7 separate regions of the Homo sapiens genome follow, and all the other regions are reported to be linked to region 6. Evidence: microRNA targets listed by miRTarBase, many of them from high-throughput screens and not tested one by one. Region 6 holds a microRNA gene; each other region holds the end of a gene's coding sequence. Distances are from middle to middle.
The links. Region 6 holds the annotated microRNA hsa-miR-4708-5p (AGAGAUGCCGCCUUGCUCCUU, at 1,987-2,007, shown strand). A microRNA usually pairs through its seed, bases 2 to 8, with sites in the 3' UTR of a target mRNA and lowers its output. Matches are read on the target gene's strand: a 7mer-m8 pairs with bases 2 to 8, a 7mer-A1 pairs with bases 2 to 7 and ends in A, and an 8mer does both.

Region 1: miRTarBase lists SHISA6 as a target of hsa-miR-4708-5p. Seed matches in the 3' UTR shown: 7mer-m8 at 237-243.
Region 2: miRTarBase lists TMEM30B as a target of hsa-miR-4708-5p. Seed matches in the 3' UTR shown: 7mer-m8 at 3,234-3,240.
Region 3: the mRNA of COX6B1 is a reported target of hsa-miR-4708-5p. Seed matches in the 3' UTR shown: 7mer-m8 at 3,423-3,429.
Region 4: miRTarBase lists SLC2A14 as a target of hsa-miR-4708-5p. Seed matches in the 3' UTR shown: 7mer-A1 at 2,106-2,112.
Region 5: the mRNA of ZNF708 is a reported target of hsa-miR-4708-5p. Seed matches in the 3' UTR shown: 7mer-A1 at 2,082-2,088.
Region 7: miRTarBase lists PPIL1 as a target of hsa-miR-4708-5p. Seed matches in the 3' UTR shown: 7mer-m8 at 872-878.

Annotation. Positions count from the first base shown.
Region 1 is chr17:11,557,586-11,561,652 of GRCh38, reverse strand. SHISA6 (shisa family member 6) reads right to left here. Exons shown (of 6, transcript NM_207386.4): 6 at 1-3,899. The coding sequence ends at 3,349. Among named protein-coding and RNA genes, the nearest start is that of DNAH9, 39 kb to the left of the region's middle.
Region 2 is chr14:61,276,794-61,280,860 of GRCh38, forward strand. TMEM30B (transmembrane protein 30B) reads right to left here. Exons shown (of 1, transcript NM_001017970.3): 1 at 577-4,067. The coding sequence ends at 3,299. It also overlaps a transcript of PRKCH not described here. Among named protein-coding and RNA genes, the nearest start is that of TMEM30B, 2.5 kb to the right of the region's middle. RefSeq lists an enhancer at 3,007-3,970.
Region 3 is chr19:35,658,017-35,662,083 of GRCh38, reverse strand. COX6B1 (cytochrome c oxidase subunit 6B1) reads right to left here. Exons shown (of 4, transcript NM_001863.5): 4 at 3,302-3,490. The coding sequence ends at 3,437. Among named protein-coding and RNA genes, the nearest start is that of UPK1A, 6.5 kb to the left of the region's middle.
Region 4 is chr12:7,810,697-7,814,763 of GRCh38, forward strand. It overlaps SLC2A14 (solute carrier family 2 member 14), which reads right to left. Exons shown (of 11, transcript NM_001286234.2): 11 at 1,818-3,838. The coding sequence ends at 3,620. Among named protein-coding and RNA genes, the nearest start is that of NANOG, 23 kb to the left of the region's middle.
Region 5 is chr19:21,289,969-21,294,023 of GRCh38, forward strand. It overlaps ZNF708 (zinc finger protein 708), which reads right to left. Exons shown (of 4, transcript NM_021269.3): 4 at 1,192-4,055. The coding sequence ends at 3,306. It also overlaps the pseudogene COX16P1 and the pseudogene VN1R83P. Among named protein-coding and RNA genes, the nearest start is that of ZNF708, 37 kb to the right of the region's middle.
Region 6 is chr14:65,333,095-65,337,161 of GRCh38, reverse strand. MIR4708 (microRNA 4708) reads left to right here and starts at 1,979; the gene lies at 1,979-2,045. RefSeq lists enhancers at 731-880, 941-1,040.
Region 7 is chr6:36,852,124-36,856,182 of GRCh38, reverse strand. PPIL1 (peptidylprolyl isomerase like 1) reads left to right here. Exons shown (of 4, transcript NM_016059.5): 4 at 150-1,354. The coding sequence ends at 370. Among named protein-coding and RNA genes, the nearest start is that of CPNE5, 15 kb to the right of the region's middle.

The sequences.
Region 1 (4,067 bases), not on the chromosome of region 6:
GGTTTTCTGGAAATCAGGAGTTTCTGGGAGGGAGAGTGGAAAGAGGGGAGGAGAAATTTGAATTGGGGGCAAGGTTGGAACTTTCTAAGAGGCAGTCGTGTGGCCCAAGACACTCCCAAGACACTGGGGGAGCCCTGAGGGCAGAAGCCTGGTTAGGAGGTGAAGTAATTCTTGGCAAAGCCTTTTTGACACAGGAAGGCATGGAGCCAGGAGCCTGGAGCAAGACAGGGAAGGTGGAGATGCAGGAGGGATTGTGAAAGCTTCAATGCCATCAGAGGCCAAGGAAACCAGGCAGAACTTTCAGGGCAGGAGAGAACCTGTGCAGATTCCAGTTCATTTCTGTTAGAGCAACAGAGATGTGCAAAAATGAATAAAACAAGGAGAGGGAAATCTTGGGCTTTAGGCTTCCTTTGTGAGCAGGAGGGAGGCTTTTACTGTAAGGGTGGATGGTACTTCTATGTATGGTAGAGGCCACCAGCCTGGTTGGGCTAGAAATCATGGCATCTAGGTTCCAGCCCCAGAAGCCTCTTTTATCTGCTACGTGAACTTGCCTATTGATGTGGCTTTGCTTGTTCCATGAAGATGGATGGGACAGCTGAATAAATGGGATACCTCTCTGTCCCAGCTATGACATAGTTTTCTGGATTTTGAAATGTGGGACTGAATTGGAGCAAGTCTGTAGACCTATCTCTACTTCTTTTTTCTTCCCTCCTCCCCTCCCTCCCTCCCTCTCTCCCTCCCTTCATTCCTTGCTTCTAGACCCAAAGGTGAAGCAGAAGAAATCCTTGAAAAGAAGTAAGCATTGCAGTAGAATTTTCCAACCCAACTGACATCAGAGCCTTTCAGCCAGACAGTGGTAAGGCTGGGATGAGAAATGTCTTGGAATCAACTCATCAACAACCCCTGAGAGAGACAGAAACCCTGTCAGAGACAGGGCTTGGGGAGGACCCCTGGGGAAAAGTGTCACCCTGGGGGCTGGAGAACTTGGTGCTGAGAAGCTTTGACACTGGAGATGGGATCAGCTTTCTGGTTTGGTGTATACCTGCATGTAGACACCTGGGAAGGGCATTCTCAGCCACTCAGGTCCTTTCCCCTCACCACCAGCATCCTGCCTTCCAAGGGATGGCCACAGATTAGACGATTCAAAGGTGCTGGGCTCAGGGGCCCAGCTGGGAGCCACCTGCTCTATTCAGACTCACTTCTTCCTTTCCAACCCTCTTAGCCTCACCTTCTGGAACAAACTCTTATAAACCCCTGGGGACCAGCCCTTAAGAAGGTTTATGTGTCTGTTGGGAGGAAAGCAGAGAGGGTAGTCCCTGGCCTTCCAGCCGCACGACTCCAGGAATGCATCCCCAGTGTGGGGTCTGACAGTGGCTTTCACAACCCCCAGCCTCCATCCCCCTAAGATCCAGGGTGATGGTTTCCTGTTCCTGTTGGGAGGCACACCCTGCAGAGGGGAGAAGGAGATGAGAGCTTTGGAACTCTTGAAATCAGTGAAAGGACACAGTCCATTGCTTTCTCTGTGGTTTGTGGACTTGGTTAGATTAAAAATCTCCAGGGCTGACACCAATAAATTCTCCTTCTACACTCGCCTTTTTAAAGGGCCATGAGTGCAGAACTGAGGGCAGGTAAAACCCCATTTATAAGGGCACTGCTGTTGGATCTGACTGTTTTTAGGATCACACCTTCACCCAATAGCCTGGAGTTGATTCCCCCAGCCCCAACCCAGCGGGTGCCCTGGCCCTGAGAATGAGGGAACCCCTTCTTTCCCCCACCAGGCTCTCTGGTCTTGGGGGAGCGGATGCTGCTGAATTCACTGTCACCTCCCCAGGAGGCCGTCACACCATGCCAACCCCCAGGCTGGAGGCGGGGAAGAGGCTGAGGTGGGCGGGCAGTGGCGGTCCCCCAACAGAGCTGAGGACCATGGTCTACCAGGTACCCCAGTGCCTGCACAAAGGGATGATGCTGTGGGGACCTGCCCAGTTAGCCCCTAGGCCAGTCGCCTGGAGGACCTTTGTTTGCTTTTGCTAATAGGTCTTTGTCCCTTTGATCCAGAGGAGGCACGGATCTGAAGGATCAGCTAGGAGGAATAAAGTTGCAGGGAGGATGTGGGGGAAGGGGACACAGGCAGTAGGAGTGATCTCTGAACTGAGCAGGTAGACAGAGATGGGGAAGGAAGGATGAGCGGAGAGGATGCAGGACAACCACCTCTCATCCTCCTTGTCTGGGGGCTGAAAAGCTGCTCTCTAGAAACTTCTGTCTAGGTCCTGCCGGAGGTGCATGTGGGAACAGGTGGAGCCCTGCAGGATGCGAATGTTGAGCCCGAGACCCCGCACATCACAGTGGCCCTCCCCACCCTGGCTCTCTGGCCACCGCAGGTGCCTCCTGGGAGCAGAGCAGGGGTGGAGAAGGCAGCCTGAGTGGCAGTCATGGTCAGGTCTAGAGGCCTGGAGGGAGTGCGGAGATGATCGGGTGTCTGGGAGGGCCAGCACCCCATTGCTACTCCCCTCTGCGAAGGCTACAGCCAAAACCCCAGAAAACTCAAGGGTGAAATCCTCAGGGCCAGGGAAGGAGCACAGCCCGCTGAAAGGACAGGCCCAGGGTCCTTATGGGCGGGCAGTCAGCTGGAAGGGGGTGGAGTTCCCACCAATGGGGAGGCAGCTGAAGGAAGGGAACCCCTCCTGGTCCTGGAGTTGAGGGGAGGGGCACAGGGCCAGGGTTGGGCCCTCAGGGGTCAGCAAAGGAAGGGTCACTCAGTGGGGACCAGAGAGTTCCAGCAGGCAAGAAAAGAATCATTATTGTGCTTATGGACACAGCAGCTCCCTGGCTCTGAGAGAGCGAGCAGGCAGTTTTTAGGCACTAGGAGATTTCTGTGATGCGGTTCTAGATGAATGAATGAGACCGAGTAGCCTATCCGGTCAGCCCACTGATTGGACCCGCTGGCCCCTTCAAACCCAGGCAGCTTCAGACCACAGTCAAGCAAGGGTCTCTCTGCTGACAGAACCTGCAGCTGAGTCCCCCGGATGGGGAGAAGGAGGCGCGGGACGGAAAGGGAGTTGGTGAAGGTGGTCGGGGGTGAGAATGGGGCCTAGCCCCCTCCTCACTCCCCACTGATTCTTCTGGAGGAGCAAGAGCGATTGCTCTTGGTCCTGGGTCTAAGTGTATTGGACCAGGCCATCGGGGCTGTGTCCCCGGGGGTATGGCTTTTTGGGCAAAGGTGGCCCACCCCCACTTCCTACAGAGGGGACAAGGGAAGGGAGAGTGGCAAGGCTAGAAGCTCTGCTCCTGGCCCCTCCCGGCCCCCGCTCTGCTCTGCCACGCCCAGCAGCCCCGGCCCTGCCCCGCCGGTCACACGGTCACTTCGGTCTTGCTGGCTGTGTAGCAGGTGTGGTGGCCCGGGATGTAGTGCAGCTGCTCCACCGTGTTGTGTCTGCGTGAGGCAAAGGCATGACGCTTGGCTGCCGTCTGGCTCTGGCCCAGGGTGGCGTATGAGTTATTGGAGGCACTGGGATGAGAGTGCATCTTGCTCATGCGGTAGCGGTCCAGCACGGGTGTGGACACAAAGACGTCCGTGTGCGAGATGGCCCTGGACAGCGACTGCTCGGGAAAGGCCGTCCGCTCCGGGGACAGCAGCGGGTCCTGGGAGTGCAGGCGCTCCGTGGAGAGCAGCTGCTCGTCGGACAGGATGCGGTCGTAGGGCATGCTGAACTCATCTGGCAGGCCCCGATCCGGGGACAGGACCCTGTCCTGGGACATGGCCCGGATGGGCCGGCGGGGTCGTTCCCTTGGCAACGGCTTCTGTTGGGACATCTGGATGACATTGAGGGGGAGGGTGCCGCGGGCAGCCAGGTCGGGCAGGTGCCGCCGTCTCATGTAATACTCGTCAGCCTCCTTGTCGGCTGCAGGGGAGAGACAGAGTGAGAGAAGGCAACTGGGGTGACCCTGCAGCCAGGACTCAGATAGAACCCTGCCCCGCTCCTGCTCCATCACAGACCTGTCAACCTTAAGGGATAATACAGTCAAACTCCTTTAGTTATGGATTAGGACAGACGGGTGAAGGGTGTATT
Region 2 (4,067 bases), 4.1 Mb from region 6:
AGACTTAAAGTAAGGTAGAAAGGGTTTTGATTATATATTATGAAGTGATATTTGCTCTAAAGGAAATTCCAGACTATTAGTCTGTCTCTGAATCTTAATAATTACATAGGCCGGGTTTGGTGGCTCACACCTGTAATCCCAGCACTTTGGGAGGCCAAGGCGGGCAGATCATTTGAGGTCAGAAGGTCAAGACCAGCCTGACCAACTTGGTGAAACCCCATCTCTACTAAAAGTATATAAAAATTAGCTGGGCGTGGTGGTGTGCACCTGTAATCTCAGCTACTTGGGAGGCTGAGACACGAGAATCTCTTGAACCCAGGAAGCGGAGGTTGCAGTGAGCCGAGGTTGCAGTGAGCCAAGTTCACATCACAGCACTCCGGCCTGGGCAACACAGTGAGACTCTGTCTCAAAAAAAATAATAATAACAATAATTTTATAGTGAGCAAATTGGTTAGTTGATTTGATTGTGGAGATACCTGGAAAATCTTTGTCATATTATTGTTTTAATTTTTTTTAACCATCTGAGAAAATACAGTGACATATTATTGTTTTAGGAGCTCTCACCAACTACTTTACTTTCTCTTTTATGCTTTTATTTTACAAAGTTAGGTCAAAGCTCATTTCCAGTCCAATTGTTGAGGTTCACTCTTTTCTATCTCACTTCCTGAAGATACTTCTAGCTAGTGAACATTTACTGGGCAACAAGGGAATTCAGGCCAACAAGAACCTGGAAGCCTGAGACACCAGACAAAATGTTACAGCACAGGGATCATTGCAGGAAAACGTTTCCCATTTCAGTTTTAAAGTTTCTGCTGCTTTGAAGTCCAAAATATCCAATAAATAATTGCAATTTATAATTGAAGTAAAATGCAGAAGACTACTACAAAAATTTTTAAATTGACATTTATTAAATTCAAACAGTATTTGAGGACTATCTAGTTTATATACATGTTGAGGTTGATAAAGTATTGAGGACTATCTAGTTTATATACACGTTGAGGTTGATAAAGTTCAAATTCTGTTTTAGGAAGTTAACAATGAATTGAGTTCATTTTAACTGAATGTTACTATAAAAGATGGTTTTCTTGCTGCAATGTAAATCTGCTATTAAGAAATTAGCAAAGTGGCTGGTGGTGTTTGTGCCTTTAAGATCATCGTTCAAAAGAATTCAGCAAACTCGATAACAAAGGTAAGACAAACATAACCTTTATTCTCTCTCAAAAACCCAGAGAACAGGGCCTGGAACCATATTCGTTAATTTAACCAGAATCAGAATACTTTAACTTTCATAGTCTCATTTAAAATTTTATAGCAATATACTGACCATTCTAAAAATAACAAAATACATGTTGCTCTCAACTACATAGTTAAAAAAGGTAGTAAATTCTCTTACCCAAAATAGAGGAGGGGTGGGCTAGTGAGCTGCTCAAACATTTGTAACAAATAAAAATGTATCTATATACATATAATGATCATGTTTTCATAGCCTAAAATCACCATACAAAATCTAATAATAAAATTGTGTCGTGTTCAGGAGTTGGGAAGCCAACACATTAAATTAACAAAGTATTTTTGGTATATGTAAATAATGGGATAGAATCTCTCGAATCAGGATTGTCCCAGAAGTTCTAAGGCAGATGTCAATGACATGCACATTGTCCATGTTCAGTAATTTTCAAAGACTAGAATAAACTATGTAAACTATTCAATACAATTCAATATTACTTAACTGCTAAAAAGTACTTCAAGATCTTGCACTGCCTTGAGTGAGTATAATCAAGTTAGTAATTGGAAAATAGCTGTAATAGCAGGCACTGAAGAATTCTGACAAATACCAAATAACTGTTTGTTTTTACCAAATAAACTGGTAAGATGATATCACAAAGGGTTTTAAGTTATTTTGCTATACAAGGTTTTTAAAAATAAACTATTGCTTCTTAGAATAACTTTAAACATACTGATTGATGTTAATCAATAAAATCAATGGAATGATTTTAGTTGAGTGTAAACTTCATCTCAAAGGTTCAAATAATCTTAAGAATCTAGTTTACATATAAGACTATATATGCTTTAACATTGATTCAAATATGATTACTAGAAATCAATAGATTTCATTTGAAAAGATAAAAAAAATTTTTTTTCCAGGTCCAAGGGAAAAGGTATGAATGAAGCCCTTTCTAATCACACACACACACACACACACACACACACACACACACAATGACAAAGAACACTGAGCTAGGAGACATAGATGTGACTTTAGGGAACTTACTTTCCCTCGAAGATCTCTTCCAGCTATCTGATTCTACGTTAAAGCATTTCCTCTGAACTGTACAAACTGGCCTCACATTTTCGAGTTTCTACACAGTACCTGGCAAAGTTTGCCTGTTGGCTTTTACACCAAAATACTAAAATATCAAATGAATCACATAAACCCTGTCCTACAACTCTGTATGCCAACTAGTTTTCCCCAGATAGTAATTTTTTAAAAATTCATTCCACAAATCATCAAGAGCTTCCTACGTTCAAGGCAGAGTGCCAGACCAAACCTGGAACATCATGGTTGTCACTGCCCCTGGGAACAAATTACTATCCGAAAAAGTGAATTCAGTTGACTGCTTCAGGCCCAACCTGGTTCAGGGTCGTGATTCCCAAATTTGAGGGAATATGGGACTCTCCAGTGGAGTTTGTTAAAACACAGCTTCGAGGATCTCATCCCAGCCTTACTGTGTCTGAATCTCTGTTTGGTGTCTCCTAATCTACCTGCATATTTAACAAGCATGTTCTCCCTCACGCCTCCACGTCTCTGCAGGTAATTTGTGGGCCTCACTCTCCATTCCAGCCCACTCTCCCCGACCAAAGAAAAGAAAACCACTGTACTGTAGTGGCGAAAGCCCTGGACTCAAGATTCAGGAGTCACTTGCAGCTGCCTGATCTTTGTTACTTCACATTGCTAGGTCTCTCAATCTCTTCCTCTAATAGGGGTTTAATAGGAGTCTCCATAGGGATCCCTTCCACTCTCAGACTTGAAGAACCTCACATGGCAACTCAGTGTCGTGAAGGAGGTGGGAAGAGTTTGCAAGGATGTTTCACTCTGCAGTCAACATCCCTCCCCGCGGCAAGACAGTCTAGCAGCCCCCCAAGAGCAAGGGGGGTAATTCCCTTATCTGGTCCCCTCATTCACAAAGGGAGGAAAAGCTAGGCGAGGTTGGAATTGGGTGACGGGCGAGGAGGAGATGCCAAAAGCACCTTGCAAGAGTTTTGGCAAGAAGCAGGAGGGATCCCTGGAAAGCCGGAATCACTCCTCGTCGTCGTCGTCCTGGTCCTGGTAGCGAATGTAGACGACCAGCATGACAAAGCCGGTGAGGATGCAGAGGGAGCCGACGACCAGGTAGGCGATGCCCAGGAAGGGGTTCTTGCCACCCATCCACGAGATGCTGCTGAAGATGAGGAGCTTGTGGCCGCCGAACGCGCGCACCGGGTAGTTGTAGGTGATGTTGACGCGGTAGGCGCCCCGCGGCAGCCCGGCCGAGTAGTTGCCCTGGCGGATGCGCGCGTACAGTTTGCGGAACGTGGGCAGCGCCGCCGTGCGCATCCACACCACGAAGTCCTGATTGATGAAGCCGGTGTTGTTGGGGTCGGGGCTGAGCTCGTAGACTGGCCGGCGCCAGTTGGGCGGGGGCGCCGTGCCCTGGAAGGCCAACGCCAGGCTGCCGTTGACCAGCGGCGGGTTGCGGAACTTGACGTGGTAGTCGGTCCACCAGGCGATGCCGGAGCGGTCGAGCGGCACCTCGACGTAGGGCCCGCCGGGCTGGCGCTGGTGCCAAAGCGAGAAGGAGTCGTTGAAGAGGCTGTTGGCGATGGCGCCGCAGGGCGCGATGGGCAGGCCGGCCGCGCTGCGCTGGTAGGGGGCGCACTCGTTGACAGGGTGGCGCAGCGCGCTGGGGAGTCCGCTCAGCTGCGCGTCGTCGCGGGACACGCCGTAGCGCCGGTTGTTCTGGTAGAAGTTGGTCAGCTCGTAGTAGAGGTACACTGGGCCCTGGAAGAGCTCGGGCAGCGAGAAGTAC
Region 3 (4,067 bases), not on the chromosome of region 6:
AGTGCTTAAGAAACAAGGCCAGGTGTGGTGGCTCACACCTGTAATCCCAGCACTTTGGGAAGCCGAGCTGGGTGGATCACAAAGTCAGGAGATGGAGACCATCCTGGCCAACATGGTGAAACCCCGTCTCTACTAAAAATACAAAAATTAGCTGGGCGTGGTGGCGCGTGCCTGTAATCCCAGCTACTTGGGAGGCTGAGGCAGAAGAATCGCTTGAACCAGGGAGTCTGAGGTTGCAGTGAGCTGAGATTGCGCCACTGCACTCCAGCCTGGTGACAGAGAGACTCCATCTCCAAAAACTAAAAAAATAAATAAAAATTGAAAAAAGAGAAAGAAACAAAAGGAGTGAAGGGGCACAAAGATGGAGGAGCTGAAGGTGAAGGCTGAGTGGTCAGAGAAGGCCTCGCTAAATGAAGACCTGAAGGCAGTGAGGGGTGAGCTTGTGGACAGCTGGTGGCCAAACATTCCAGGTCGAGCAAACAGCAAGTGTAAAGGATCCGGGGTTGGAGCCAGCCTGGTGTGTCGAAATACATTTGCTCACAGTTCCTGTGCACTGAAGAGGCCAGTGTGGCAGGGGCTGTGTGAGCAAAAGGGCACCATATCCAATCAGATCAATATATTTACAAATACTTCTAGATGCATGAGCTATCTCTAAAGGAATGTACAGGAAACACTGGCACTGGTGGCAAACCCTGGGCAGAATCAGGCAGCTGGACTCAAGGAGTCCAGCACCTTGACTTTTCACTGGCCGTCCTGTTTCATTTGAAATTTTCATGGTGTTGGCTGGGTGTGGTGGCTCATGCCTGTAATCCCAGCACTTTGGGAGGCCGAGGTGGATGGTTAACCTGAGGTCACGGAGTTCAAGACCAGCCTGGTCAACACGGTGAAACTACTCTCTAAATCGCTACTAAAAATACAAAAAATTAGCTGGGTGTGGTGGCAAGCGCCTGTAATCCCAGCGTTTTGGAAGGCTGAGGCAGAATTGCTTGAACCGGGAGGTGGAGGTTGCAGTGAGCAGAGATCACATCACTGCACTCCAGTCTGGACAACAGAGCAAGACTCCATTTCAAAAAAAAAATTTTTTTTTCATGGTGTTTAAGTTCTTTGCTACTTCCAACCCACGCCATAACCTCCCACGATCCCTCAAGCTCCCTGTGTGTGCACTAAGGTCCTGTTTACAGCCACTTTTTTTTTTTTTGAGACGGAGTTTCGCTCTTGTTGCCTAGGCTGGAGTACAATGGCACAATCTCGGGTCACAGCAACCTCCACCTCCTGGGTTCAAGCAATTCTCCTGCCTCAGCATCCAGAGTAGCTGGGATTACAGGCATGCACCACCACGCCTGGCTCATTTTGTATTTTTAGTAGAGACGGGGTTTCTCCATGTTGGTCAGGCTGGTCTGGAACTCCCGACCTCAGGTTATCTGCCTGCCTCGGTCTCCCAAAGTGCTGGCATTACAGGCGTGAGCCACCGCGCCCGGCCCCTACAGCCACTTTTCTTCATGAGCAGCTATTTCACAAGATCTATCTCTGGGGCCATTTTTCTCCATACAAGAATCATCCCTGCTCATGTGAATGCATCAGACAAGTTTGTAACCATTTGAAGTTTTGTTTTTGTTTTTTGGGGATGGAGTCTCGCTCTGTCGCCCAGGCTGGAGTACAGTGGTGTGATCTCAGCTCACTGCAACCTCCACCTCCCAGGTTCAAGTGATTCTCCTGCCTCAGCCTCCCCAGTAGCTGGGATTAGGGGCACGCACCACCACACCTGGCTAATTTTTGTATTTTTATAGTTTTTTTTGTATTTTTAGAAGAGATGGGGTTTTACCAGCTTGGCCAGGCTGGTCTTGAATCCCTGACCTCGTGACCCACTCGCCTGGGCCTCCCAAAGTGCTAGGGTTACAGGTGTGAGCCACCACACCCCGGCCATTTGAAAGGTTTTGAGGACACACCAATTCAGCCATAAGAGTGTTCCGGCTGGTCATGCTAGCTAGGTCCCTGTTGACGAGTCTGTTGGGGATATTCTGGGCTGTTATTGTGTGGCAATTCTTTTGGGGGCACCATGAAGAACAGCTCTCAACTTGGCCTACTTAAATGACTTCCAACTACCATCATGATCAGCATGAAAGAGCAGGTCCCAACACGGGGAGAAGTTACACATTGTGCAGGAGATTGCTTATTAGATATTAAGAACTCTTTTTTTTTTTTTTTTTTTTTTTTGGTGAGATGGAGATTTACTCTTGTTGCCCAGGCTGGAGTGCAATGGCATGATCTCGGCTCACCACATCCTCTGCCTCCCAGGTTCACGCGATTCTCCTGCCTCAGACTCCCGAGTAGCTGGGATTACAGGCATGTGCTACCATGCCTGGCTAATTCTGTACTTTTAGTAGGGACGAGGTTTCGCCATGTTGCCCAGGCTGATCTTGAACTCCTGACCTCAGGTGATCTGCCCACCTCAGCCTCCCAGAGTGCTGGGATTACAGGCATGAGCCACTGTGCCCGGCCATTAAGAACTAATTTCTTAGGTGTAAATAATTATGTTAAAAAAATAGGTATCTCCAGGCAGGAGAATAGTTTGAACCCAGAAGGCAGAGGTTGCAGAGAGCTGAGATGACACCACTGCACTCCAGCCTGGGCAACAGATTGAGACTCTGTCTCAAAAAAAAAAAAAAAAAAATTGTATCTCCAAGAGATACATATAGTTTCTTATTTCTGGATAAAATATAATCTTTATGTATTTTATATTATATTATAATCTATATAATTTGCTTTAAAATTATGTAGGGTGGTTGCACACATAGGAACTTAGGTTATTCTGTATAATCAACTATTTGACTCATTGACTGGCACAGAGAGGGTGGCCAAGGTTCAATAAAATTAAGTTAAAAAACGCTAGGCATGGTGGCTCATGCCTGTAATCCCAGCACTTTGGGAGGCCGAGGCAGGTGGATCATCTGAGGTCAGGAGTTTGAGACCAGCCTGGCCGACATGGTAAAACCCCATCTCTACTAAAAATACAAAAATTAGCCAGGTGTGGTGGGGTGTGCCTGTAGTCCCAGCTAGTCGGGAGGCTGAGGCAGGAGAATCGCTTGAACACTGGAGGTGGAGGTTGCAGTGAGCAGAGATCGTGCCATTGCACTCCAGCCTGCGTGAAGAACGAGACTCCATCATAAAAAAAAAAAAAATTAAATTAAATTAAATAAATAAAAACAAAACAGAGAAAATACTCATTCAAGCCCCTCCCTGGTCAGGGCACTGATTCCAGCCCAGCTTCTTGCCACTGCCTGGCCCGTTCACACGCATAGTCTCACTTTTCCAATGAGTTTTTATTAGCAGGTAAGTCATGATTTAGGATCCTGGGGTGGGGATCACTGGGTACCAGGTCCCCCTTCACCATCCTGGGAGAAGGATGGAGGACAGAGGAAAGGGAGATGCAGCCAGTTCAGATCTTCCCGGGAAACGTGCCTTCAGCCCGTTGCTCATCCCAGTCTGTGACCTGTGGAAAGACAGTGTTATTCCCTCCGCAGTGGGGAAACTGAACGGATGGACTTCTTATCTTCCTCACTTTGCCCACCTGTTTGTTCAACCAATATCCACAGGTACCTGCTGTGTGCCAACCTCTATTCTAGAGGCCGGGGAATCAGCAGTGACCCCAAAAGACAGAAATCACTGTTCTGAACAAGCTGACATGCTGGGAGGAGAGTAATGGGCAGGAAAACCCCAGGCCCACTGCAGAGCTGTCGATGGGGAGATGTGTCACTGTACAGAGCTCCAAGGGTGGGCCCTGCTTTGAAAACCTCAAGTCAACACTATGCTGTTTGTCCAAACAGGGGAGATGGAATAGCAGGCAGCTGTGAAAAAAAACGAGGCTGATTTATGTTCTGGCATGAATGGATGGATCTTCAAGATACATAGTCAAGTGCAAAAAAGGTGCCAAACAATACACAGTGCAATCCCACCACTGACCACAGGCGATGCTCAGTATAAACAATGATGGAGGCTGGGTGTGGTGACTCGCACCTGTCATCCCAGCACTTTGCGGGGCCGATGTGGGAGGACTGCTTGAGCTCAGG
Region 4 (4,067 bases), not on the chromosome of region 6:
TACAGTGATATCCTGTTCCCCTCCTCCGATAAAAAACAATTATAATCCTTGGGAAGACAAATTTTAGTATAATATACTTTTTTTGTTTTTTGAGATAGGGACTCTGTCACTCAGGCTGGAGTGCAGTGGTGCGATCTTGGCTCATTGCAGACTCAATCGCCTGGACTCAGGTGATTCTCCCACCTCAACCTCCCAAGTAGCTGGGACTACAGGCATGTGCCACCATGCCCGGCTTGTTTTCTTTTGTTTTTTGAGATGGACTCTCCCTCTGTCGCCCAGGCTGGAGTGCAGTGGCACGATCTCGGCTCACTGCAAGCTCCGCCTCCCGGGTTCACTCCATTCTCCTGCCTCAGCCTCCTGAGTAGCTGGGACTACAGGCGCCCGCCGCATGCCCCACTAATTTTTTTTTTGTATTTTTAGTAGAGACGGGGTTTCACCGTGTTAGCCAGGATGGTCTCGATCTCCTGACCTTGTGATCCGCCCGCCTCAGCCTCCCAAATTGCTGGGATTACAGGTGTGAGCCACTGCGCCCGGCCGAAGGATTTTAAGTAGGATAGTGATATACAGTCCGACTTCTGTATCTGCAGATGCAAAGAACTACAGATGGAAAATATTTGGGAAAAAAGACAATACAACTATAAAAAACAATACAGTTTAACAATTATTTACATTGTATTAGGTATTAAAAGTAATCTAGAGATGATTTAAAGTGCATGAGATGATGTGCATAGATTATTTGCATTTAAATCATCACAATAATAATTATATGCATTTTTTTTTGAGACCAAGTCTTGCTCTGTCACCAGGCTGGAGTGCAGTGGCGTGATCTCAGCTCACTGCAAACTCCGCCTCCCAGGTTCAAAGGATTCTCCTGCCTCAGCCTCCTGAGTAACTGGGACTACAGGTGCATGCCACCACACCCAGCTAAGTTTTGTATTTTTAGTAGAGATGGGGTTTCACCATGTTGGCCAAGATGGTCTGGATCTCTTGACCTCGTGATCTGCCCGTCTTGGCCTCGCAAAGTTCTGGGATTACAGGCATAAGCCACTGCACCCAGACTATATGCATTTTATATAAGGGACTTGAGTATCCCTGAATTTTGTTATCTAAGAAGGGGTCTGGGAACCAGTCCCCTGGGGATGGCAAGGGACTGCTGTATGTCACATGGATGCCCTGACAGCAGTGTGGGATGAATTGTAGAGAGCAAAGACTGGAGGAGGAAGGAAGTGGAAAGGAACACGAGAAAAACAGAAAAAAAAAAAAACTAGTTCTCACTGGGGAAAGAAAGCAACATAATTCATCAAGTATGAAAAGCAAGGCACGAAGGCTTTTTCACTTAATCTGCATAATAAACACATATTGCTATTCTCTTTTTTTTTTTGAGACAAAGTCTCACTCTCGTCCCCCAGGCTGGAGTGCAATGGCGCAATCTTGGCTCACTGCAACCTCTGCCTCCTGGGTTCAAGCGATTCTCCTGCCTCAGCCTCCCAAGTAGCTGGGATTATAGGCACCTGCCACCACGCCAGGCTAATTTTTGTATTTTTAGTACAGACAGGGTTTCACCATATTGGCCAGGTGGTCCCAAACTCCCGATCTCAGGTGATCCGCCCTCCTTTGCCTCCCAAAGTGCTGGGATTACAGACATGAGCCACCGGGCCCGGCCAAATATTGCTATTCTCTTATGTATGAGACTCTAAGAACAGAGTCTCATACAAGTCTCAAGGTCACAACAGGTACTGAGTAGCCAACTCAGGATTTAAAGCTGATTTTGTTGTTACAGGAACGGCAAAAAATAAATAAATAATGTGCTTGTGATGTCATGTACATTCAGAATTTTTATTTTAAAACAAAGAATCAAACAAACAATAATGGAAAATCCATATGGAAATATTCACAATCTTCTCAGTGAGAAATAGGAAAACAACTTCCCTGCCTTACTGCCAAACTGAGGAGCCAGAAGTTGACGTGAAGTTGGAAGGCCACCTTTCCAGCTAAACCCCACTCCATAGCTACGTGCATTTTTATTCAAAGGCTCCAGGAGCAGAGGGAACAGTGAGAACTGAGAACCAAAATACTGTCACTGGCAAGGGTTTGGCTAAAGGGTCTGAGATGTGTAAGCACCAAGAAGGGAAAGGGAGACTGAGCAACATATGAAAAAGGGGCTGTAGGAACAAACACAGAGAAAATAAGTCAACAATAACATACTTCCACCCAGAGCAAAGTGACAGTGCACATACATTCATCCTCTCAAGTGTGGGCTGCACTGCACATTGACTCATACTGTCTAAACCTGGTTTATTGGAAAGATTCAAGTCCCCTGAGGGCATTCGGCATAGGACCACAGTGACATGGTAACAGACATACGCAAGCGTGCCGTGAGCCTAAAGCAACAACACACTTTAGATAATAATCGCTCAGAAAAAAATCCTCTCCCAGAGCTGAGGTTACAAATTCCAAGTTTGCTGTAAACATTCTTTGGGGAATTCCTTTAAAGGTATGAGTTAAAATAAAACAGAAAATCAACACCTAAAATCTCCTAAAGAACAAAGTGGAGAAATAATGAATCTCTACCAAGAACCAATTATTTTAGGTTTCTCATTTGGATGGCTCTCCCACTAGATAGGTGGCGGGATTACTTCAAAAGTAATGAGACTACTACAAGGAGTTATTTCGTCCAGTGAGGGGAACAGGCTTTCTAGAAATCACTTTCTCTTCCCTGGACTCCATCCAAAATTAGAACCCATCAACCGCCATTAACTACAATGCCCATATTAGTTAATAATCCTAGATTTCAAGTACTACTACATGTAAACTATTATCTTAAAGATAAAGTTCCAAAGGAAATGAGTAGCTTTATTAAATAGGCATACAACTTTTCTGAGAAATCAAAGAGTTTCCATCTGAAGGACAGAAATTGTTAAGAGGTAATGTACAGACCTCAGGCACCACATCATTTACCCTCCAATAATGAACAACATTTCTCCCTGAATTCTTATTGCACCTTAACCTCTCCAGCATCAAATCTTTTACTCTATAACCTCTCTTTAAACACCTCCCTCTAATCTCAATTTCCTTCTGTTTTTATTATTTGGCAAAATTACACTTAAAAAATAAATATTTATGTAATTAAACCAGAGGATAAGATAAATAAAACTCAAGTTAATTTGCCGCGTAGAGCTGTATGGAAGTGAGGAAGGTGCTCTTACATAAACACCCTCCGGCTTCCACACTCATATGTATCTGCTTCCTGGTAAGTCTGAGGTTGGGGCAACTGCACCTTACTTTTCCTCTCCTATATCCTCTAGTGCGGCAATATCAGAACCCAAGGGAGGAAAAGCTGGCAAAGTTGTCATGTGCCAAGCGGCCAATCCCTCCTGAAATGAAGGTAGGTTCACTCGGTCTCTCCTAAGCAGAAGAGGATGTCCAGGAAATAAAATTTAAAAAGCCATTGAAGATCCAACAAACTGCAGCCTTGGGGTGCTCATGGAGTGCGTGGGATGAGAAAGAAATCAAGTAGCAGCATTCAGAAGCAGTCCTGGGTTCATCCTGATAAAGTCTCTCCCTTGTTGAGGGAGAGGTGGCTTTCCCATGCCGGGAGGGAGGTGGAAGGAGGCATGACTTAGACATTGGTGGTGGTCTCCTTAGCAGGCTCGATGCTGTTCATCCCCATGACGCCGTCCTTCCCAGATCTATCTGCACCGTGTGCCTGCCCTTCAAAGGCCCGTGTGATATCCTCAAAAGTCCTGCCACGGGTCTCAGGGACTTTGAAGAAGGTAAAGGCCAAGAAGGTAATGAGGAAGCCGGTGAAGATAATAAAAACGTAGGCTCCTAAATAGTACTAGTGAAAGGACAGAAAAAAGGAAGGTTGATATAAAAATCTGGTCATTGACAAATACAATTTCCTTCACATTCATATTTCCAATAGGCTTCAAGCTATAACCCTTCCATATTTAATGAAAACATAAAGGTTTCTTCAGAGATTTACTTATGATTCTATTGCTAACTTACTATATTTCTCTGTATTTTTCTTTCTGTCATTTTTTTTCATTAAAGTTAGATGCTTCCAA
Region 5 (4,055 bases), not on the chromosome of region 6:
ATGACTCAGAATAAAAACTGTAGATTGGGCCAGGTGCGGGGGCTCACGCCTGTTATCAGCATTTTGGGAAGCTGAGGCAGGTGGATCATGAGGTCAGCAGTTCGAGACCAGCCTGCCCAATATGGGGAAACCCTGGTCTCTACTAAAAATACAAAAATTAGCTGGGTGTGGTGGCGCATGCCTGTAATCCTAGCTACCTGGAAGGCTGAGGCAGGAGAATCACTTGAACCTGGGAGGCGGAGGTTGCAGTGAGCCGAGGTTGGGCCACTGCACTCCAGCCTGGGCAACAGAGCAAAACTCTTTCTCAAAAACAAAAAAAAACTGTAGACTGAACTTCACCCACTGAAAAAAAGTTATATGAACTGGAAATTTCTTCAAATTGTAATATCAGTATGGAAAAGAAATATTATCTCAAATTTCAAATTCACAGAGGTCACTTTATTATTTTGCCATGTTTAACATTCACTCTTAAAGTAGAAGATTCTGCATAGAAATTAAGTTACACTACATTACAGAAAAGTAAATTTAAAATTCTTTACTTACCATTAGAACTCCTAAAATTTTGATTTCTAAAATATATTCTCTAGCAAATTTTGTATTTGCTACACGTTGTATAAAAATCTAGGCCAGGCGCAGTGGCTCACGCCTGTAATCCCAGCACTTTGGAAGGCCGAGATGGGCGGATCATGAGGTCAGGAGATCGAGCCCCTCCTGGCTAACACGGTGAAACCCCGTCTCTACTAAAAATACAAAAAATTAGCTGGGCGTGTTGGCGGGCGCCTGTAGTCCCAGCTACTCAGGACACTGAGGAAGGAGAATGGCGTGAATGTGGGAGGCGGAGCTTGCAGTGAGCCGAGATCGTGCCACTGCACTCCAGCCTGGGGGACACAGCGAGACACTGTCTCAAAAAAAAAAAAAAAAATTAAACAGATTTCAACAAGAAAAAATAATAAAAATTTAACCTACGGAAACAGTATTTTTTAAACTTATTTGCAGTTGAAAGCCACTGGCAAAGGAGATTACCAGAGATGTTAGTTGATTACATTACCAAATAGTATATTCTTACTATCATTTACCTACACCTTTGAGTAAATGGGATAGGTTTCAGTTAGTGGCATAATAATGCTTCATTGAATGCACAATAGTATTAACATGTTAAAAATGTATAATGAAACAAGTTCACACATCATCTGAAAATTTAAAAATGTACTGCATTTTATTACATAAAAGTACAAATAGTAAAATAACGTACTAATTTTTTAATTTTAACAAAACTTAAATGTTCTTACTATAATGCAAAAGAATATTACTCTAAACACCTACCTCATGCACCACTCAATATCATAATTAACCACAAATACCATCTCCACTTAGATTTTCATCATGCATGTTACATTTTAATGTCCTTACTCTTCCAAAGAAAAGGTCATAAATAATGCCCACCTAAAAAAAAAGAAACTCTCCTATCTTTGATGCCGTGACAACTGATCACATGCTTTCACATGTGAATACAATAGAAATGAAGAAATAGCATCAAGTAACTAGAGAGTTGAATCACAGCAATATTAGCTTTTTAAAAAATCTGTACTTCTTTTCAAGGAAAAAAGAACACTTTGGGCCGGGCGCTGTGGCTTAAGCCTGTAATCACAGCACTTTGGGAAGCCAAGCTGGGCAGAGCATGAGGTCAGGAGTTCAAGACTACCCTGACCAATATGGTGAAACCCCGTCCCTACTAAAAATACAAAAGTCAGCCGGACGTGGTGGTGTGCACCTGTAATCTCAGCTACTCAGTAGGCTGAGGCAGGAGAATTGCTTGAACCCAGGAGGCAGAGGTTGCAGCGAGCTGAGATTGTGCCACTGCACTCCAGCCTGGACGACAGAGAGAGACTCTGTCTCAAGGAAAACAAACAAACAAAAAAAGTATACTTTGAATGTAATTACAAACTTCCAAAAAATCTTCTACTCCTTTTAAAGTTATGTACAAATAAATTTATCTACCGTTAGTTTGGGATCATTTTTAACAGTCAGCACTTTGATATAGTGTAATGTCTGAAGCATCCATACCTTAGTTTGTTTGTTTTTGAGATGGAGTCTCACTCTGTCACCCGGCTGGAGTGCAGTGGTGCAATCTCGGCTCACTACAACCTCTGCCTCCTGGGTTCAACGGATTTTCCTGCCTCAGCGTCCCAAGTAGCTGAGACTACAGGCACGTGCCGCCACGCCCAGCTAATTTTTGTATTTTTAGTAGAGACAGGGTTTTACCATGTTGACCAGGATGGTCTCAATCTGTTGACCTCATGATCTGCCCACCTCAGCCTCCCAAAGTGCTGGCATTACAGGCGTGAGCCACCATGCCCGGCCCTACCTTAGATATTTCCACTGTGAATTCTCTGATATTTACATAGACTTATTTTGGATTAAATGTTTTAAATATATACTGCATCTGCAAAAATATATCTCAGTATGAACCCTCTGGTGTTGTCTAAGTTGTAGTTTTGGAAAACTTTTTTTTCAAATTTATTACATTTGCAGGGTTTTTCTCCAATCTGAATTCCCTGATGTTGAACAAAGTTTAAGTAACTGCTTCAGGGTTTTCTCTAGTACAAAATGTGTACAATAAGATCTGTGATACAAATAAAGGTATTACAATCCTCTTTTATTTGTAATGTTTGTCTTCAAAATAAATACTTTAAAAGCTTATATTTTCTGAAATACTTTTTGACAGTAATTAAATTTATAATACTTTTTTTAAGTACTCTCTGATGTTGAGTAAGATGTGAGCAGACATTAATGGCTTTTTCACAGTCTTTATATTGGTACAATTTTTCTCAAGTATAAATGCTTTCCTGGCAATAAGGTGTGAGTATTCATTAAAAATTTTGCCACATTCTTCACACTTGTAAGAGTTTTTCTAGTAAGAATTATCTTACCTACAATCAAGTGTGACAATCATTTAAAGATTTTGTCACATTTTTCGCATTTTTAAAGTTCCTCACCAGTATGATTTATTTTATGTTTAGAAAAGTTTGAGGTGTTGTCAGAATTACTGTGATGTCTTCCAGCTTTGTAGTTTCTCTCCAGTTTAAGTTTTTTTATGTTTAGTAAGATTTAGGGACCAGTTAAATGCTTTGCCACATTCTTTACATTTGTAGGGTTTCTCTCTAGTATGAATTATCTTTTGTTTCATAAGGATTAAGAGCCAGTTAAAGGCTTTGCCACATTTATCACATTTGTAGGATTTCTCTCCAGTATGAATTATCTTGTGTTTTAATAAAAGTTGAAAATACACTAAAGGATTTGACACATTATTTACATTTGTAGGGTTTCTCTTTGGTATGAATTCTCTTATGTTTAGTAAGGTTTGGGGACTGGTTAAAGGCTTTGCCACATTCTTCACATTTGTAGGGTTTCTCTCCAGTATGAATTATCTTATGTTTCATAAGGGTTGAGGACTGGTTAAAAGCTTTGCCACATTCTTTACATTTGTAGGGTTTCTCTCCAGTATGAATTATCTTATGTGTAGTAAGATGAGAGGACAGAATAAAGCTTTTGCCACATTCTTCACACTTATAGGGTTTCTCTCCAGTATGAATTTTTTTATGATTAGTAAAATTTGAGGAGTAGTTAAAAGTTTTGCCACATTCTTCACATTTGTAGGGTTTGTCTTCAGTATGAATTACTTTATGTTTAGTAAGGATTGAGAATATACTAAAGGCTTTACCACATTCTTCACATTTGTAGGGTTTCTTTCCAGTATGAATTACCTTATGATAAGTAAGAGTTGAGGACTTGGTAAAGGCTTTACCACATTCTTCACATTTGTAGGGTTTCTCTCCAGTATGAATTACCTTATGATTAGTAAGGTGTGAGGACCGGTTAAAAGCTTTGCCACATTCTTCACATTTGTAGGGTTTCTCTTCAGTATGAATTATCTTATGTTTAGTAAGGGTTGAAAATACACTAAAAGCTTTGCCACATTCTTCACATTTGTAGGGTTTCTCACCAGTATGAATCCTCTTATGTGTAGTAAGGTGTGAAGATAGGGTAAAGGCTTT
Region 6 (4,067 bases):
TACTGGCAAGAGTAGAAAATTTTCATGATTGGCCTAAAGAATCCAGATTCACCTTCCTTGGGCTGGCTGAGTCCCGCATCCCAGAGCTCCTGGTTGATATAACTGAAAGAAGTGGAACTAGGGTAGGAGGCTGCACTCCAGGAGATAAAATGGTCTCAAAATAAGCCCTTGAGACTTTTTATAAGTCACAAAATCCTACTAGTTTTTCAAAGTGCAGCTCAAATCTTGGGTCTTTCATTAATCTTTCCCTTATTATCTTAACCAGAAGCAGCCCATCCCTGCTATAAATTTAAAACCTTGAGTATCGGCCAAAAACACTGGAATCATTCCTGATTTCTCTCTTTATGTCATAAATCATAACCCTATATCTCATCTATCTTGTCTACTCTACCTTCATTATATATCAGAATCTAATCTCATCTCACCACCCTTAGTCTCTTCTCTCTGGTCCAAGCCACCATCATCTTCATCTCATCCCGGATTATTGCAGCACCCTTCTCACTGGCCTCACACTTCTCCTTGTGCACTCTTGGAGTCCATGCTCAGAGTGATCCTTCCAAGGTGTGAGTCCAATCATGTCACTGCTCTACTCAAAGCCCTCCAATGGCTTCAAAACAAAATCTAAAGTCCTTACCACCACTTGCAGGGTCCTCAGTGATCCACTCTGTCACCTCTCTCATGTCCTCTCCTGCCCACAGTCTCCTGCTCACTACTTTCCAGCTACACTGGCCTGCTTGTTCTTAGAACTCACCAAGCACACTCCTTCCTGAGAGCCTTCGTGCTTGCTGCTCGCCTTGCTTAGAAAATTCTTCACAGACTCAGATGACTCACTCCCTCCTTCTTCAGATTTTGACTCAAATGTCTCCTTACCAGAGAGGTCTTCTCTGATCTCCCATCTAAAAAACCACATTCTCTTAACCATGTCACTCTACCCTCCTTAATCTGCTTCATTTTCCTTCAAAGTACTTCCCAGAAGCTGGTGTATTATACATATTTATTTGCTGACACTCATCTTGGCCTCTCAAAGTATGTCTTGTCTCATTAGAACATAAGATCTAGGGGGTGGGGGAATAGGGGAGGGATAGCATTAGGAGAAATACCTAATGTAGATGACGGGTTGATGGGTGCAGCAAACCACCATGGCATGTATATACCTATGTAACAAAGCTGCATGTTGTGCACATTTATTCCAGAACCTAAAAATATATATATACATATATACACATATATACGTGTGTTCCTTATACATATATATATATAAGGAACATAAGATCCATAAAGCCAGGGGTTTTATCTGTTTTGCTCCCTGTTTTTTGAGACAGCCAAGTGTAAAGGGGTCCCCTGAGAAACTCCGACTGGCCTGCGCACTGGGAGAACAGGGTGGAGCTGCAGAAGTTCACACCCTTTGCAGCAGGAAGGAGCCTGGCCTCTCCTGATCCAGGGTAGTACATGGGATTCAATCAGTGAGGCAGGAAAAACCAGCAAGCAGGACTCTCACTTTGCTGAGAGTCCCTGTTTCCATTTATTTTCCTTTTTGCCCAATAAGTTCCATTCTTCTCACCCTTCAAAGTGTCTGCAAGCCTAATCTCTCATGGCTGTGTGACAAGAATCCGGCTTTTAGTTGAACTAAGGAGAAAGTCCTATAACACTTTAGCCTCAGAGCTTACAACAAAACATAATTAGTGCTCCATATATATTTGTTCAATACTTATGTATTCCCTTAATGTTTGTTATCTGTTGGGCATGGTCTCTAGCTGCTATCTTTACACACATCCTGTCTCTTCAACGGGAACATACGATTCTTAAAGGCCAGAGCTGAGTCTTAAAGCTCAAGGCCTTAACATAAAGAGGCCACTCCAAAGTGTATGTTGTTGACATTTGGAGGGAGGATACATTGGGGCAGTAACAGCTGTTGTTATGTTACCTACCCGCTCTTGGCAGGGCCCTGAGAAGCTGAGGTATGAGACACAACAGCATATTTAGGAGAGAGATGCCGCCTTGCTCCTTGAACAGGAGGAGCAAGGCGGCATCTCTCTGATACTAAAAGGAGAATACGGGAGCACCTTTCTTACCTACATTTCCCCTGGAACTAGTCTTTCCACTTGCAAGTTTGTTTACAATTCCACGTTCTTTGCAACTGAATGGGGCCTCACCCTCATTAATTGGTGGCAAAGGTCACTCCTTAACAGATGCTAAACAGAAGCAGAGCAAAGTTAAGGGTGGCTAAGGTCACACAGAGTCGTTGCTCAAATTTAGGAAGGAAACCCACCTAGTGTGAGGTGGGGCCCCAGGAGGGGCATCTGAGCCCCAAGAGAGCAGCTCTCTTTAGCCCCTGCTCTAGTTTCTTTGCAGTTCTCCTAAAGAAGTTCACCAGCAAGGCCATTTACCAGACACCAGGGAATCAGGCCACTTTCAAATGTTGATAGCATTACGCTTGCCAGAGGAGAAAGGGACAAGTGAGGAGACTGAAGACAGTGCTTTCAAGAAAAAGAAGAAAAAGATATTGAATGTGCACTCGCTAAGCCAAAAAAGCAAATGCCAGGAAGAACCGTGAGCCTTGTTTGAAGCCAAGTCTGCGCAGAAGAGTCCCAGGTGTAGGGAAGGAGGAGCTGAGGTGGTCTGAGGACGCACAGCAAATGCCCTGGGGGGTGGGGCGGGAGGAGAGAACATATTTTAAGCAACCTTAAAAGACTCGTTTTAGCATTCCGCAGGAAATGAAAAGCAGATGTGTTGGTTTGGAACTTGTTTACATATTTGGCCTCTGAGAAGCTTCCAGGACAGTTAGGACTGGAGAGAAGGGGTATTTTAGGCAAATGCTATAGTCTCCACTTGGAGAGAGTGGGGCCCTTCATTGGCTCACCTGCTTCCTGAGAAGCAAGCATTTAGGCTGAAAGACCATCATTGTCCCTAAGACAGGTCTGGCTAGAATAAACCAGGATTTGATATACAGAACTGGTCTCCTTGTACCTTCTTACAGAAACTAAGGGTTGTTGCACCTCCTCTCTTGCTTTCAAGTCACACCCACTGGGCAGAGAAGTGAAATCAGAGGCCTGGACATTGGGAGGATGATGGGATGGTTCACACCAAAGGTCCTGAGATTTGCAGAAGGCTTGTTAGAATACAGATTACTGGGTCTCACCAGCTCAGCCGAGCTAAGATGAGGCCAGTGGCTACACACTGGAATCATCTGGAGATTAAAATAGACTGATAGCTGAGCCCTGTTCCCACAGATTCTGATATTAATTGGTCTGGGGTGTGACTTAGGCATTTTTTAAAAATTATTTTTAATATATAATAGAGAGGGGGTCTTACCATGTTGCCTAGCTGGTCTCAAACTCCTGGCCTCAAGCAGTCCTCCTGACTCAGCCTCCCAAAGAGCTGGGATTATAGGCGTGAGCAACCATGCCCAGCTGACTTGGGCATTGTTTAAAGCTCTCCAGATAATTATAAGGTATAGCCAAGGTTGAGAACCATTGAACTATTTATCTTTTACCTGCTCTCATCATTCCATCCCTAGATTAACTTCAATTTACCTTCATAACATGTTCACAAGGTGGTTAGGACCACAGGAGACCGTGGGATCTAAATTAGGCATAAACCTGGATTTAGAGAAGGGGCTAAAAGAATATTGCTCTCAGAGACATCAACTATCAAAAAATCTATGTAAATGCAGGCAATTCCCCTTTTTTGTAGTATGTCCAGGAAATGGCGCTCCTTAAAAGATATTTTTTAGTTGCTAAGGGACAGGAAAAGTAGCAATCTTTAACACTTATTGAGCATTTATTATGTGCCAAGTACTCTTCCAAGTGCTTTCATTTTAAATTAATTTAATTTCCACAACAGCTCAATGATGTTGGAGCTGTTATTTTCCCCATTTAGCAAATGAGGAAACTGAGATACTAGGAGATGAACTAATTTGTCCAAAATCACACAATTAGTCAGTGGTAGAGCTGGCTTTCAAATTTTGGTGTGCCTCTGAATTACGGAGACTACGGAGACTCCGCTGAGAAAGAAAAATAGCTCAGATCAGTCTGAGCTATGTGAAGTATACAAAATTTATCAAGCCT
Region 7 (4,059 bases), not on the chromosome of region 6:
CAGAGAGACTGCCCTGAGGGGTTGTCTGGGTCTGGACAGAGGCCAGAACAAAGTCCTGGCTGCTTTTTCATCCCTAGGATGGGGCAGCAGCTCTACACTGGACCTGTGGGGTTATTTATACTCTTTCCTTTCTTCCTTTTTCCCACCAGGGGCTGGAATTCTCGCAATGGCCAATGCGGGGCCAGATACCAATGGCAGCCAGTTCTTTGTGACCCTCGCCCCCACCCAGTGGCTTGACGGCAAACACACCATTTTTGGCCGAGTGTGTCAGGGCATAGGAATGGTGAATCGCGTGGGAATGGTAGAAACAAACTCCCAGGACCGCCCTGTGGACGACGTGAAGATCATTAAGGCATACCCTTCTGGGTAGACTTGCTACCCTCTTGAGCAGCTCTTCTGAGATGGCCCCAGTGAACCAGCTTCTAGATGACATAGAATGACATGTAATGCTAAATTCATTTTGGCTTTGCAAGTCATGAAGCTTAGGAGGCCTGGCATCTTGGGTGAGTTAGAGATGGAAGTACATTTTAATAGGATGCTTCTTTTCTCTTCCCCCAGTGCCTAGGTTGCCAGAGCATTTGCACAAATGCCCCTGTTTATCAATAGGTGACTACTTACTACACATGAACCATAATGCTGCTTCTTGTGCATGTCTGCTCTGATATACGTCGAACAATGTAGCAGCCACTGTCATTTCTCAGTGGTTTTGCCTAACCAAACTTCTTCCTAAGGAGATTTATATTCTGGCCTACACAGCAGTCCTTGATGGCTGACAGCCACAGAATTCCAAACCAAGTAGTGTCTGTCAGCCCTCTTAACTCTGTGCACGCCCTATTTCAGTCTTTTACATTTGTTCTTCTAGGGAATGTATGCATCTCTATATATATTTTCCCTCTCAAAACCAGAACATCAACAGTGCTGTTTCTGACACTTCAGACATCCCACGCAAAGCCACATTGAATTTTTGCCAAATGAAAAACACATCCAACAATCAAGTTTCTAAGAAGGTGTCAAGTGGGGAATAATAATAATGTATAATAATCAAGAAATTAGTTTATTAAAAGGAAGCAGAAGCATTGACCATTTTTTCCCAGAGAAGAGGAGAAATCTGTAGTGAGCAAAGGACAGACCATGAATCCTCCTTGAGAAGTAGTACTCTCAGAAAGGAGAAGCGCCACTCAAGTTCTTTTAACCCAAGACTTTAGAGAAATTAGGTCCAAGATTTTTATATGTTCAGTTGTTTATGTATAAAAATAACTTTCTGGATTTTGTGGGGAGGAGCAGGAGAGGAAGGAAGTTAATACCTATGTAATACATAGAAACTTCCACAATAAAATGCCATTGATGGTTGAAATTGCTGCTGTGGTCTGATTCTAAATATTGTATGAGGTTCCAATGGTCATTTTAATCCCAGTCATCTTAAGTAGTAGTACAGAGATTGAATGTTCAAGATTTCACATCATTTTAGGCTTGTGGATCTCCAGTAGACTTCTCCCTCTTTAAGAGCAATTCTAACTTTAAAAGGGCAGAACCAGAGAAAGAATTAAGTGACAGAAATTGACATTTCTGAATAAGAGGTGTATTCATCTGTTTTCACATTGCTATAAAGACACTACCTGAGACTAGGTAATTTATAAACAAGAGAGGTTTAATTGACTCACAGTTCCACATGGCTAGGGAGACCTCAGGAAACTTACAATAATGGTGGAAGGCAAAGGAGAAGCAAGCACCTTCTTTACAAGGTGGCAGGAGAGAGAGCGAGCACGGGGGAAACCACCATATTTAAACCATCAGATCTCATGAGATCTCCCTCACTATCGTGAGAACAGCATGCAGGGGGAAAATGCCCCATGATCAGTCACCTCCCACCAGATCCCTCCCTCGACACAGAGGATTACAATTCGAGATGAGATTTGGGTGGGGACACAGAGCCAAACCATGTTGGGGGGATTACCTGTAAGTGAACCAGGTGTATGTGCTAAGAGACCTGCACCATCCCTGGAATTTGCAGAGAGCCCACCTGCACATTATTATGGGACCAGAGGCAGTATATGTTGTGGTGTTTGGTTCCTTAAGCTGGTAGCTCCTTGAAGAGGGGATTATAACTTTAATGTTTCTTACTACTCTATCAATTTTGGAAATGGTGATTTACTTTATGGAATGGCCAAACAAGGTTCTGTTCCCCAAGCCTTCCCTACCTTCAACCTCTTTCTCTACCTTTCTCTTTTCTCTCAATAGCAAAAAAGCAAAACCCAACAACAAACCATATAAATGACTTTGTAACTTCCCAGAGATGGTTTTTGTATGCAAAGTAGTGTTCTACACTCTGGAAAAAATAGAAATGTATTTCTTTCAGCCTGAACTGGGTGGACATAATTGGATCTGCCTCTGAGAGCAAGGAATAGCACCTGTTCACTAACCTCCCAGAATCGTAATCCTGAAAATCTCCACTTTCATCCAAGGCACAGGCGTGGTGGAAACGTATCATGGCTACTCTGAAGCAAAGAAGGTTCTGCATGCCTTGGGAGGAGAGCCACACAGGCACAGTTCCTTGTTTTTGGAAAGGGACACCAAATCCATGCTAAGGCAGTCACGTGGGCACATACCAGTTTTCATAGAGGATATGACCTCAGAGAGTGAAGCTTGAATTGTTTCACAATTTGTGGTTCTGCCAGTTAGCCAGAGTTGTAGAAGTTCCCGTTTCCTTATAAGGGAAGCTCATCTAAAAGGAATCCTGCTTAATTCTTTGGTCATATGAGTGTCTACATCCTGTCAGGATTAGTACCATTGAGACAGGTCTCATAAAAGTGGGGTGTACTAGAGATAGTTCATTTTTGTTACATCTCATCACGGTGAGGGTGGTGAGCTTTCTCCTGGCTTATCAGGAGAAAACAAGGATAAGTTTAAAACTTGGATGGGGATTATTGAAGATAGGTGTGGAGGACCATGGGGGGCTCATCAAGGCACAGGAGAGAGACAGCTCTCTGCTGCTTCTCGTGGGGGAAGGGAAAGAGATTCTAGACATTTGGAGAAGGCTTAAAGTTGGAAGTAGATACACCAGTGGAAAAGGCTTTCAAACAGGTGCCCCTGGGATGATGGATAAGAGAAGCTTGGCACACAGACTATAAAGAATATGGCCCAAGGGCCCTAGCCCAGGGCTTCTCACATGACTACATGCAGGAATCACTGAGGGAGCCTGTTAGGAAGCAGCTTCTGACTCAGCACTCAGCCAGAGAGTCTGCAGTTCTCGCCAGCTCCCAGGAGATGGTGACTGCCGGTCCAGACACCACCCTTTGAGTAGTGAGGTCCTAGAGGTCACATTTGTCCAACATGAAACTGGGGAGGGGGGGTTTCCCTAAGAGCAAGGGCAGTCAGGACCATGAACCAATCTTATGCCTCCTGGAGCAGAGCTCTCCACCTCATCCTGGTGGTCTTGGAAGAGTGAAGAGATTCAAAGCACACGATGAGCTTTAACATAAGCTGCTGGCTTTGGCTACTGGGATTGAGCTTTATGAAAGTGTTCTGTTCCCACAGCAGTACAACATGGACTTCAGACCCTGGTATGTGGCACTGAGATACCTTGTGTGGACACCAGGGTGGGTGAGATTGGGTGATCAGTAGACATCACAGAAAATGCAGGGAAAAGAGCATCAACAAAGATGACATTGGGGGAAAGAGCTCTGGAACCTGACTGTCGGGGTTCAGATCCCAGCTCCACCACTTAGCAGCAGCATGAACTTAAGTTTCTTAATTTCTCTGTGCTTTAGTTTCTTCCACTATAAAATGAGAATAATGGGCCAAACTTCAAGGGCTATTGTGAAGATTAAATGAGCTAGAACAGGTATTTAGAACAGGAACTGGCATTTAGAAAACACCCCCAAAATGCTAGTTGTTGTTACTACCAGTGGCCCTTGAAGCCACCACACACCTGTCCTACCTCTTCATCTCGACATATACACAGCCTGACCTGTCTCAGCCTCTCACCTCACAGCTTCTCCCTCCCACTGGGCTAACCTCTGAGAACAAGGACCTTGTCTTACTCCCCTCTGTAAGTCTTCC